Regions from separate parts of the Homo sapiens genome. Here region 2 is linked to region 1. Evidence: fine-mapped expression QTL. A gene starts in region 1. The other region holds a variant in brackets. All regions are shown on one strand. Distances are from middle to middle.

Region 1 (5,241 bases):
GCCGGGGACCGTGGCTCACACCTGTAATCCCAGCACTTTGGGAGGCTGAGGCAGGCGGATCACAAGGTCAGGAGATGGAGACCATCCTGGCTAACACGGTGAAACCCTGTCTCCACTGAAAACACAAAAAATTAGCCAGACATGGTGGCAGGCGCCTTTAGTCCCAGCTACTCGGGAGGCTGAGGCAGGAGAATGGCATGAACCTGGGAGGCGGAGCTTGCAGTGAGCCGAGATCGAGCCACTGCACTCCAGCCTGGGTGACACAGCAAGACTCCGTCTCAAAAAAAAAAAAAAAAAAGAAAACGCAGATAGTTTCCTTCAAGAAAATATTTATTGCATATTATTAGTGATTATGTTTTACAGCAAATTTAAATACATACACTTTTCACAAACCCAAAATGGGAATCAGGGCAACTATCAAATTTAAATGTTGAACCAAGTCCTGGTTTTCAGAATTCAGCAGCCAGTCATGGTTCTGTACCAGGGCCACCAGTCCATGATTTCCAATAGTTGAGGATCTTTTCTGTATTTGGAACAAAATCTTCTTTATATGTGACAACTGTTTCCACATAAAATCCTTTTGGGCGTTCAGAGAGTTCACTGGGTACTTCACTTGCTGAGCCATCCTTTTGGTCTACTTTATCACCATTAAGAGAAAAAAAAAAAAAGAACACCTGAATTATTAACTTAGAAAGCAGTCATTAAAGTCTTAGAAATTAACTAAGGTAAGAATTACATCCACTCTCTCCAACCCCAATAATGAAGGAAGGAATGAAAAGGAAGGGAAAAGAAAAGCTGGGTGCGGTGGCTCACGCCTGTAATCCCAATCTCACTTTGTGGGGGCCGAGGCAGGTGGACCACCTGAGGTCAGGTGTTTGAGACCAGCCTCGCCAACGTAGTGAAACCCCATCTCTACTAAAAATACAAAAATTAGCTGGGCGTGGTGGCATGGGCCTATAACCCCAGCTACTGGGGAGGATGAGGCAGGAGGACTGCTTGAGTTGGGAGATGGAGGTTACAGTGAGCCAAGATAGCGCCAGTGCACTCCAGCCTGGGCGACAGAGCTAGACTCTGTCTCAAAAAAAAAATAAAACAATTCGCCGGGCAGCAGTGGCCTGCGCCTGCAATCCCAGCTACTCGGGAGGCTGAGGCAGGAGAATCACTTGAGCCCGGAGACGCAGGTTGTGGTGAGCCGAGATCATGCCACTGCACTCAAGCCTGGGCGACAGGGTGAGACCTTGTCAAAAAGAAAAAAAAAAAGAACGAAAGAAAGAAAACATAAATATGGACATTAAAATATTTTTACTTTATATATAAATGTAAAGTATTTTTACCATATATTACATATAAAGTAAATATAAAATATTATATATAAAAATTTCTTTTTCTTTTGGTAGAGATGGGGGTCTCCCCATGTTGCCCAGGCTGGTCCCGAACCCCTGGGCTCAAGCAATCTCCCACCTCGGCCTCCCAAAGTTATGGGATTACAGGCGTGAGCCACTGCACCCGGCCAAAATGTTTTTAAATGCTTAATGCTGGACACATGTACTTTCAGGCCACTGACAGCTTCATCACCAAATGTAATCTTCAGCATAGTTTTTACACAACAACTTTACTGAGATATAATTAACATATACGATTAACCCACTTAAAATATACAATTTAATGTTTTTAGTATATTCAGATTTGTGCAACCAGCACCACAATCAATTTAAAAATACTTTCATCCACAAAAGGAATCCATACCTTTGGCAGTCATTCCCCAACTCCCCAACCCCTCAGCCCCTAGCAACCACACTAATCAACTTAATGTCTCTACAGATTTCCAGCATATTTTTCAAAGCTGAGAGACTTTTCTCCCTTTGCGCTTAGTAACTGGAAGATTTTAATACGCCTTGGCTGCTAAAAGTACTGAAATTGCTCGCCATATACGATGAGGGACAGTAGTACTGAAGCATCACTCTTTAAAAATCACCGGCCAGAGTCTCTGAAAGTCCACCTTGCACTTTACACAGATTCCTCCAATTCTGAATATGGGGACGGCCCTATCCAGTAAATGATTCAGATTTAGGAAACAATATTTACAAGGTATTAATAATTCCTGGAGTCTAGTTCTTTGCAGATTCCATTATAACAAACGGCTGTTAGCACCCGTTTCAATTAGTTTTGCAGAATAAACCTGGGATTTAAAGGACAGGGAAGTTGTTTCCATGACCCCCGGGGAACTCTCATCGAAGGCCGTGTGTTCCGGGGCAGGCCCCGCCGAAGAGCCCTACCTGACGACTTCGCCATTGTCCGGCTATAGTAAAGCAGTGAGCCCAACACAGACCAGGTGCCGATCCCGTAGACCACCGACATCCGCCGGTACCAGGCCGTGAACTCATTTCGATACATGGGTACGCCAGCGAGTGCCTCGATTCTCGCAGGCCCACGGCAGAGGCGGGACTTCCGGTGAGGGCGTCGCTGCGGTCCCTGCCGCCGGAACCATTAAGGAGCCGCCAGTTTTCAGCGTCCGCTTCCGGCTCTGCCCCGATGCACCTTGGGGCCTCTGGCCCGGAAAGTCGCTCAGGTGTCCGGACTTTCGGGTGTAGAACTGTGGGCGTGCGATACTTTTTACCACGTGACGAGGACTAAATGACAACTTAGAGGAGAAGCTTCTCACTTGCAAAATTGTAATGCCTTCGTGGGCTCCAGACGGTATCCGAAAAGGTTACTTCCAATTCCTCTTCCAGTTTTCAGATTTGCAGGGATACCGCTTGTCTCTCCCCGCAACTCTTCTTTTCCTCCATTTTTCTTTCCGGAACTCTGGGTGAACTTTAAATACTTCCAGGCCAAAGCTAATCCCTCCACTAGGCTCTGGGTACTATTTTTTCCAGCCTCAGTGGCCTTTCCCCTCATTGACACCCTAAGTCCTCCCCCATCTTCATTATTGACGTTTATCCTTCATACAAACGTGCCCATGTCTCAAAAACAAAAAATCTCCTTCGACTCCGACCACCTCCAGCTTTTGTCTTATGCATACATTTTTTAAAGCAAGATGCCCTCAATAGACTGAACAACTTAAGAGCAAGTGTGATGTGCTTGGCACAAGGTAGGCCCGGTAAATTAACGTTAAGTACTTTTCAGCCACACTCAAACTTGGTTTCGAAAGCATTTGCCACCACTGACCCCACCTGCACCTTTCATGGCTTCAGAAACATCATTTTCCCTGGTATCCTTCAGGGTTCTTTTCACCTTGCCCACCCTTTAAAAACTGATGTTCTGCCCTACAGAAATAGATAAAAAACTTAACTCTGAATGGATCGCTGACTTAAATGTAAAAGCTAAAACTATTTAATATAAGCCTAGAAAAAAACCAGGAGAATATGTTTGCCATCTTGGAATAAGCACAGAATTCTTAGAATAAAAAAGGCATCCCAAGCGGGGTGGCTCATGCCTGTAACCCCAGCACTTTGGGAGGTAGAGCAGGGAGGATTGCTTGAACCCAAGAGTTCCAGACCAGCAAGGCCAACATAGTGAGACCCCATCTCATTTTATATATATATGCATAAAGCGAAAATGGATAAATAGGGCTTTTAAAAAAAAATTAAAATTTTTGCTCTTTGAAGGTCACAGTTGAGAAAATGAAAAGCCAAGCCACAGAATAAAATATTCATAATAACATATATCTAACAAAAGGACTTGGATCCAGAATATATGAGGACGCTTTACAACTCAGTTATAAAAATACAGCCCAACTAAAAACCAGGCAATAAATTTGAATAGAACGAAAGAAGATATACAAATGACCAATAAGCACAGTAGCATCATTAGTCATCACAGAAATGGACATTAAAAGAATACAATAAGAGACCATTACACACCTACTAGAATGGCTAAAATCAGATTGAGAATGCCAAGAGCTGTAAGGATTTGGAATAATTGGAACTGTTATTGATGGGAACATAAAATGTTACAATCTCTTTGCAAAACTTAGTTTTTAAAAAGTTGAACATATGCCTACCATATAACCCAGGCATTCCGTTTCTAGTTATCCATGAGAAATGAAAACCTGTGTCTGCACACAGCCATGTACATGAATGTTCATAGTTTTATTCTTAATAGGAAAAAATAGAAACCACCCCCAATACCCATCGAGTAAATGGCTAAACAAAACGTGGGATACCACTTACAAATAAAAAGGAACTACTGGCTGGGTACGGGTGGCTCACACCTGTAATCCCAGCACTTTGGGAGGCCAAGATGGGTGGGTCACCTCAAGTCAGGAGATCGAGACCAGCCTGGCCAACATGGTGAAACCTCGTCTCCACTAAAAATACAAAAATTAGCCGGGCATGGTGGCGGGCGCCTGTAATCCCAGCTATTCCAGAGGCTGAGACAGGAGAATTACTTGAATCCAGGAGGCGGAGGTTGTGGTGAGCCGAGATTACACCACTGCACTCCAGCCTGGGTGACAGAGTGAGACTCCTTCTCAAAAAAAAAAAAAAAAAAAAAAAAAAAGAACTACTGATAAATACAACCATACGATGAATCTCAAAATGGATTATGCTAAGTGAAAAAGCAAGCTAGACACCAAAGAAACCAGTCACGAAATTCTAGAAGCAAACTCCAGTGGGAGAAAGCTGATGAGTAGTTGTCTGCAGTAAGGGCATGGAGAGAGGGAAGGGCTAAAAGGGTCTGAGGAGACTTTGAGAGGTGATGGTAATGTTCTGTATGTTGATTATTGTGGTGGTTTCTGTCAAGATTTATCCAATTGTATGCTTTAAATGGGTGCAGTTTATTATATGTGAACTATAGCTCAATAGTTATAGACAAAACAGAAAAATTGGTATTGTTTCAAGCTTGCGTCTCTTCTCATCCTTCTCATCAGCCTTACTCATGATACCTATGTTATATGTTAATAACTCTCAAATCTACTCCAGATTCTCTGAAAGCAAATTCATGTTACTGCCAACCTGCTATGCATCCTCGGCTGCATATTCCACAAGCTCCTGAAACTAAAAAAATGTTCCGAATTGAATTTATCAATGCCACTCCCAACAGGAAACAAACCTTCCCTTTCTCTTCCCTGATTCAGAGAGTGATTGAGAAATTGCCCAAGCCAGGAACTTGGAATCATCTCACCTGACATCCTCTGTCACCTCTGTCTAAATACCCTGTCTCTGTTTAGGCCTCATTTCTCACTTGGATTACAGTCTCCTCTCATCCTTCCCCCTCTGGAGTGTCTTTCAAACCTTAAAT
Region 2 (5,241 bases), 94 kb before region 1:
CATAGATCAAAGTACTTAATAACCTGTTGTATGGAAACTTTGTATATTTTTTTTTTTTATAGATACAGAGTCTCGCCATGTTGCCCAGGCTAGCCTAGAACTCCTGGACTCATTGATCCTTCCATCTCAGCCTCCCAAAGTGCTGGGATTACAGATGTGAGCCACCACACCCAGCTATATGGACACTTTCTATGAAACTTTTCTACCAAACTAGATCATGAAAACAAGGTTGCCAGCCCTATTAGGGCATCCCATGAAACTTGGATGCCAGCCCTATTAAGACCTTTTCAAAGGAAAAGCCATTGTTAATAGAGAGGTTAACACTGTCCTTCTGACCTGGGTAGGATACCAAAGGGGCAGGGAAGTGAGAGGATAAGACCACTGGGCATAACCAGAGACACATGGTTCCTGCCCCAGTCACAACCCCAGCCTCTCCAGGCCCTGGACCCTCATTCCCCATTCCCACTACACAACAAAAGCAATATAAATGACTTTGCGATAAGAGCCATAAAAAGAAAGTTAATTTATCAGTAATTTCACCTCCTGAGCCACAACTGAGTTATCTGAAGCAGCTGTGTCCATTCAACAATGTGACAAGAAGGCCAGAACTGACAAGATGGCTGTTTTATATCTATTTAAAAGGAAAGTGGAACAAAAAAAAAAGGAGGGGGGAATATTTGACTTCTCTCCTATTATCCCTTTGGAAATGTCAGTACACATAGGATATAGGTCAACTGCATTCTTTTTAACTGGCGCACAGTATTCTACACTATGGACAAGACACCCTTTGTGTAACCTTTCCTCTACTGATTAGCATTTTGGTTGTTTGGATAACGCTGTATTGAGCATCCTTCTACCAATACCCTTCTGCACATGTGTATGTGCTTCTGGAGCAGCTTGCAGAAGTGGAATTGCTCAGTCAGGTTAGGTCTGGTTCTGATTTTACTCAGCATTTGCTGACTGCTTTCCAAAAATACTCTCCCCCCCACCCCCAGCTGGGCATGGTGGCTCACACCTGTAATTCCAGAACTTTAGGAGGCTGTGGCAGGCAGATCGCTTGAGGTCAGGAGTTCAAGACCAGCCTGGCTGTAGCAGGCAGATCGCTTGAGGTCAGAAGTTCGAGACCAGCCTGGCCAACAAAAATTGCTAGTATTATTGATTTTTAATTTTTACCTATCTAACAAGGCAAAACATGGGAGCTTGTAACTTGCATTTCCTGGATCATCAGGAAAACTGAACGTCTTTTCACAACTTTTTTTTAAGAAATGGGGTCTCGCTCTGTCACCCAGGCTGGACCGCAGTGGTGCAATCATAGCTCACTGTAGCCTTGAACTCCTGGCCTCAAGCGATCCTCCCACCTCAGCCTTCTAAGTAGCTAGGACTACAGACTTGTACCACCATGCCTGGCTAATTTTTATATGTTTTGTAGAGACAGGGTCTCACTATGTTGCCCAGGCTGGTCTCAAACTCTTGACCTCAAGCAATCCTCCTGCCTCAGTCTCCCAAAGTGCTGGGATTACAGGCATGAGCCACTGTGCCTGGTCTCTTTTCAAATCTTAATGTCCATTTATATTTCTTCTGGACATTACCTGTTATCAGCCTTTTCTCCGTTTCCTATGGCTCTTCAGCCTTTTTTTCCTTATTGATTTGTAGGTGCTCTTTATGGATTCCAAATATTATTACTTTGTTTAAACAAAGTTTCATAAATGGAGAGGAATACCATGTTTAAAGACTAGAAGACTCAGCTGGGTGCAGTGGCTCACGCCTCTAATCCCAGCACTTTGGGAGGCCAAGGCGGGCAGATCACGAGGTCAGGAGATCAAAACCATCCTGGCTAACACGGTGAAACCCCGTCTCTACTAAAAATACAAAAAATTAGCCAGGCGTGCTGGCGGGCACCTGTAGTCCCAGCTACTCAGGAGGCTGAGGCAGGAGAATGGCATGAACCTGGGAGGCAGAGCTTGCAGTGAGCTGAGATCGCACCACTGCACTCTAGCCTGGGCGACAGAGCAAGACTCTGTCCCAAAAAAAAAAAAAAAAAAGACTAGAAGACTCAACACAGTAAAAAAGTTAAATCTCTGCAAATTGAGTACAGGTTTAATGTAATTCCTATCAAATTCCCAGCATCATTTTTTGTAG[T/A]CACAGACAGCTTTTTCTAAAATTTATACAGAAAGGCACAGGTCCTAGAACTGCTTAAAAACATGTCTAACAAAGGAGAATAAAGTGGGAGGAAATACTGTACCCAACATTATGGCTTACTATGAAGCTACAGTGATCAAGATAGAGTGATAATGGCAGAGGGATAGGCACAAAGATGAATGAACAAAACAGAGCCCACAAACAGACCACACAAGTCTAACTAGTTTTTGACAAAGGTATAAAAATGGAGGCAAGACAGTGCTGGATCAACAAGACATCTATAGAAGCAAAGAAAATGAACCTCAGCCTAAAGGTGGGTAGATAAAATCACTGTCAATATCCTGGTTGGGATATTATCTGTGGTTCTGCAAGATGCTTCCATGTTAGGAGAAACCGGGTGAGGGGTACACAGCATCTCACTGTATTATTTCTTACAATTGCATGTGACATATAGTAACCTCAATACAAAATTCAATTTAAAATATTACAAATATTTTTTCCTAGCCTAACTTTTTTCTTCTGAATTTGTTTATGGTATATAGGGTTAATTTTTATCTAGTCAAAATATATCCCCTGGATTTATTTAATATTTTATATTTCACAATTTTCTCAAAGTTGCTAAAATGAGCCGATAGGATGTCTATTTTAAACTCTCTTTATACTAAATAATTTTTTTTGTAATAAAAAGCCTTTTTGTTTTCTTTCTTCCTTTTTCTTTCAGTTTCTGCTTTGCTAAATAAAAGCTTCTTTTTTGGGCCACCCACGGTGGCTCATGCCTGTAATCCCAGCACTTTGGGAGGCCAAGGCAGGCAGATTACTTGAGCTCAGGAGTTCGAGACCAGCCTTGGCAACATGGCAAAACCCTGTCTCCACAAAAAAATACAAAAATTTGCCAAGCGTACTTGTGTGCACCTATAGTCCCAGCTACTCAGGAGGCTAGGATGGGAGGATTGCTTGAGTCTGGGAGGTTGAGGCTGCAGTAAGCCATGATCACACCACTACACTCCAGCCTGGGCAACAGAACGAGACCCTATCTCAAAAAATAAAAATAAAAAATACTTTTTTTTTGAGACGGAGTCTCGCTCTGGCTCCCAGGCTGGAGTGCAGTGGTGCAATCTCAGCTCACTGCAACCTCCACCCTCCCGAGTAGCTGTGATTATAGGCTTCCACCACCACGCATAGCTAATTTTTGTATTTTTAGTAGAGATAGGGTCTCACCATGTTGGCCAGGCTGGTCTCAAACTCCTCTTCTGACCTCAAGTGATCCACCACTTCGGCCTCCCAAAGTGCTGGGATTACAGATGTGAGCCACCATGCCCAGCTGGTAAAAAAATATTTTTTTTCTTTCTTTCTTTCTTTTTTAAAGTTATGGGATACATGTGCTGAACGTGCAGGTTTGCTAACATAGGTATACATGTGCTATGGTGGTTTGCTGTACCTATCAACCTGTCATCTAGGTTTTAAGCCCCGTATGCATTAGGTATTTGTCCTAATGCTCTCCCTCCCTTTTCCCCCCACTCCCTGACAGGCCCCAGTGTGTGAAGTTCCCCTCTCTGTGTCCATGTGTTCTCATTGTTCAACTCCCACTTATGAGTGAGAACATGCAGTGTCTGGTTTTCTGTTCCTATGTTAGTTTGCTGAGGATGATGGTTTCCAGCTTCATCCATGTCCCTCCAAAGAATATAAACTCATTCTTAAAAAAATATATTTTTTGATTAACCATAATAAACTCTATAAAAGACAACATTTAAAAAATTAAACAAACCTGAGCATGACATTAAAAGATATGGTTAAGTAATCTCAATTTCAAGCTTAAGTTGATATGACAAAAGAGAAATTAAACATCATGAATATAATGGAAAGGGCACATGTACTTGTAGCTGTTCATAAAGGGAGGGAGGAAAGAGTCTGCAAATCGAGGAGAATGGGAGAGTCCCCTTCCACAGGTCAGCCTGGGCACTCATGGTGGGGAGCAACAGGGCCAAAGGTGCAAACCAGTGCTGGGCACTGCTTTTGACGAAGTTTGTTAGCACCTGACTCAGGCTTGCATCCATCAGACTACGTCCCAGAAAGAAAAGATGTCTGTTTCACTTTTCTAAAACTTTCTTGAGGAGTATACAAAAAGTATTAGTTTTGAAAATATAAATTCTTCTTAAGAAAGCAGCCATGCACATTTGAGATCTCTGCTTACGCTTTTTCTTTTTTTTAAGAATTCATTTAGATATCTTAGAACTACAGATAATAAAGTTCATTTTCAATTCCTAAAATGTGCCAGATGCCATTCTTTCTACAGAGTGCACAAATGTGCCACCTTTCTACAGAGAGGTAAGTGACCTGTCCAAAGCTGTCAGATGCCACACCCAAGCCTGGGGCATCAGGGGGCTGCTTCTCTAAGTGCAAGGCTCACTCTGCACCACAGTCACACCAACTGCTAATCAGTGTCCCACCCCTACATAAGTGGGTAAGGCTGCTTGTACCAAAACTTTCTTCTTTGATGCTAACATGGGGAGTGTTAATAAAGACTGACTCTGTGAAACAGATAAACATTTATATGTCAGTCATGTTTAACCAGTAGAATAGGAAAAAGTAAAGTCAGAGATCTTCCTCTTCCTACAACTTACTAACCAAGTTACCTGTGTGTTTACATGGGGTTGCACTCGAATGACAAACCATTAACAGACATTGAGAAATGAAACTGGCTAGCACAATGACTTCATCTCAGAAAAGAACATCAAAGTTCATCCACATTTTCATCTATTAATATCTATGGCAAAGACATAAAGCATAACAAACATTTAATTATTAGAAATTAAGTACAAATATCATGAGGCTGAGGCAGGAGAATGGCATGAACCTGGGAGGCGGAGCTTGCAGTGAGCCGAGATGGCGCCACTGCACTCCAGCATGGGCGACAGAGCGAGACTCTGTCTCAAAAAAAAAAAAAGAAATTAAGTATAAATAGAAGAGACACTAGCTATAGCTTGGTATTCAGACCTATAGCTAAATCTTTTAAAAACAACAACAACAACACACAGGGGTGGGGGAAACACACACACACACACACACACACACACACACACACACATCTCAGACTCTTATGCC

Evidence for each region. PIP is the estimated chance that this variant, and not a neighbour inherited with it, causes the effect.
Region 2: its variant is the best candidate, but not a certain one, in a credible set for the expression of SMIM26 in whole blood (TOPMed, PIP 0.57).

What each region holds. Positions count from the first base shown.
Region 1 is chr20:18,564,632-18,569,872 of GRCh38, reverse strand. It overlaps SMIM26 (small integral membrane protein 26), which reads right to left and starts at 2,441. Exons shown (of 2, transcript NM_001348957.2): 1 at 2,277-2,441; 2 at 313-637. The coding sequence starts at 2,394. The coding sequence ends at 468. RefSeq lists a silencer at 2,308-2,590 and an enhancer at 2,654-2,753.
Region 2 is chr20:18,658,173-18,663,413 of GRCh38, reverse strand. All of the region lies in intron 4 of DTD1 (D-aminoacyl-tRNA deacylase 1), which reads right to left. Among named protein-coding and RNA genes, the nearest start is that of DTD1-AS1, 38 kb to the left of the region's middle. The variant T/A (reference allele first, on the strand shown) is at 2,140.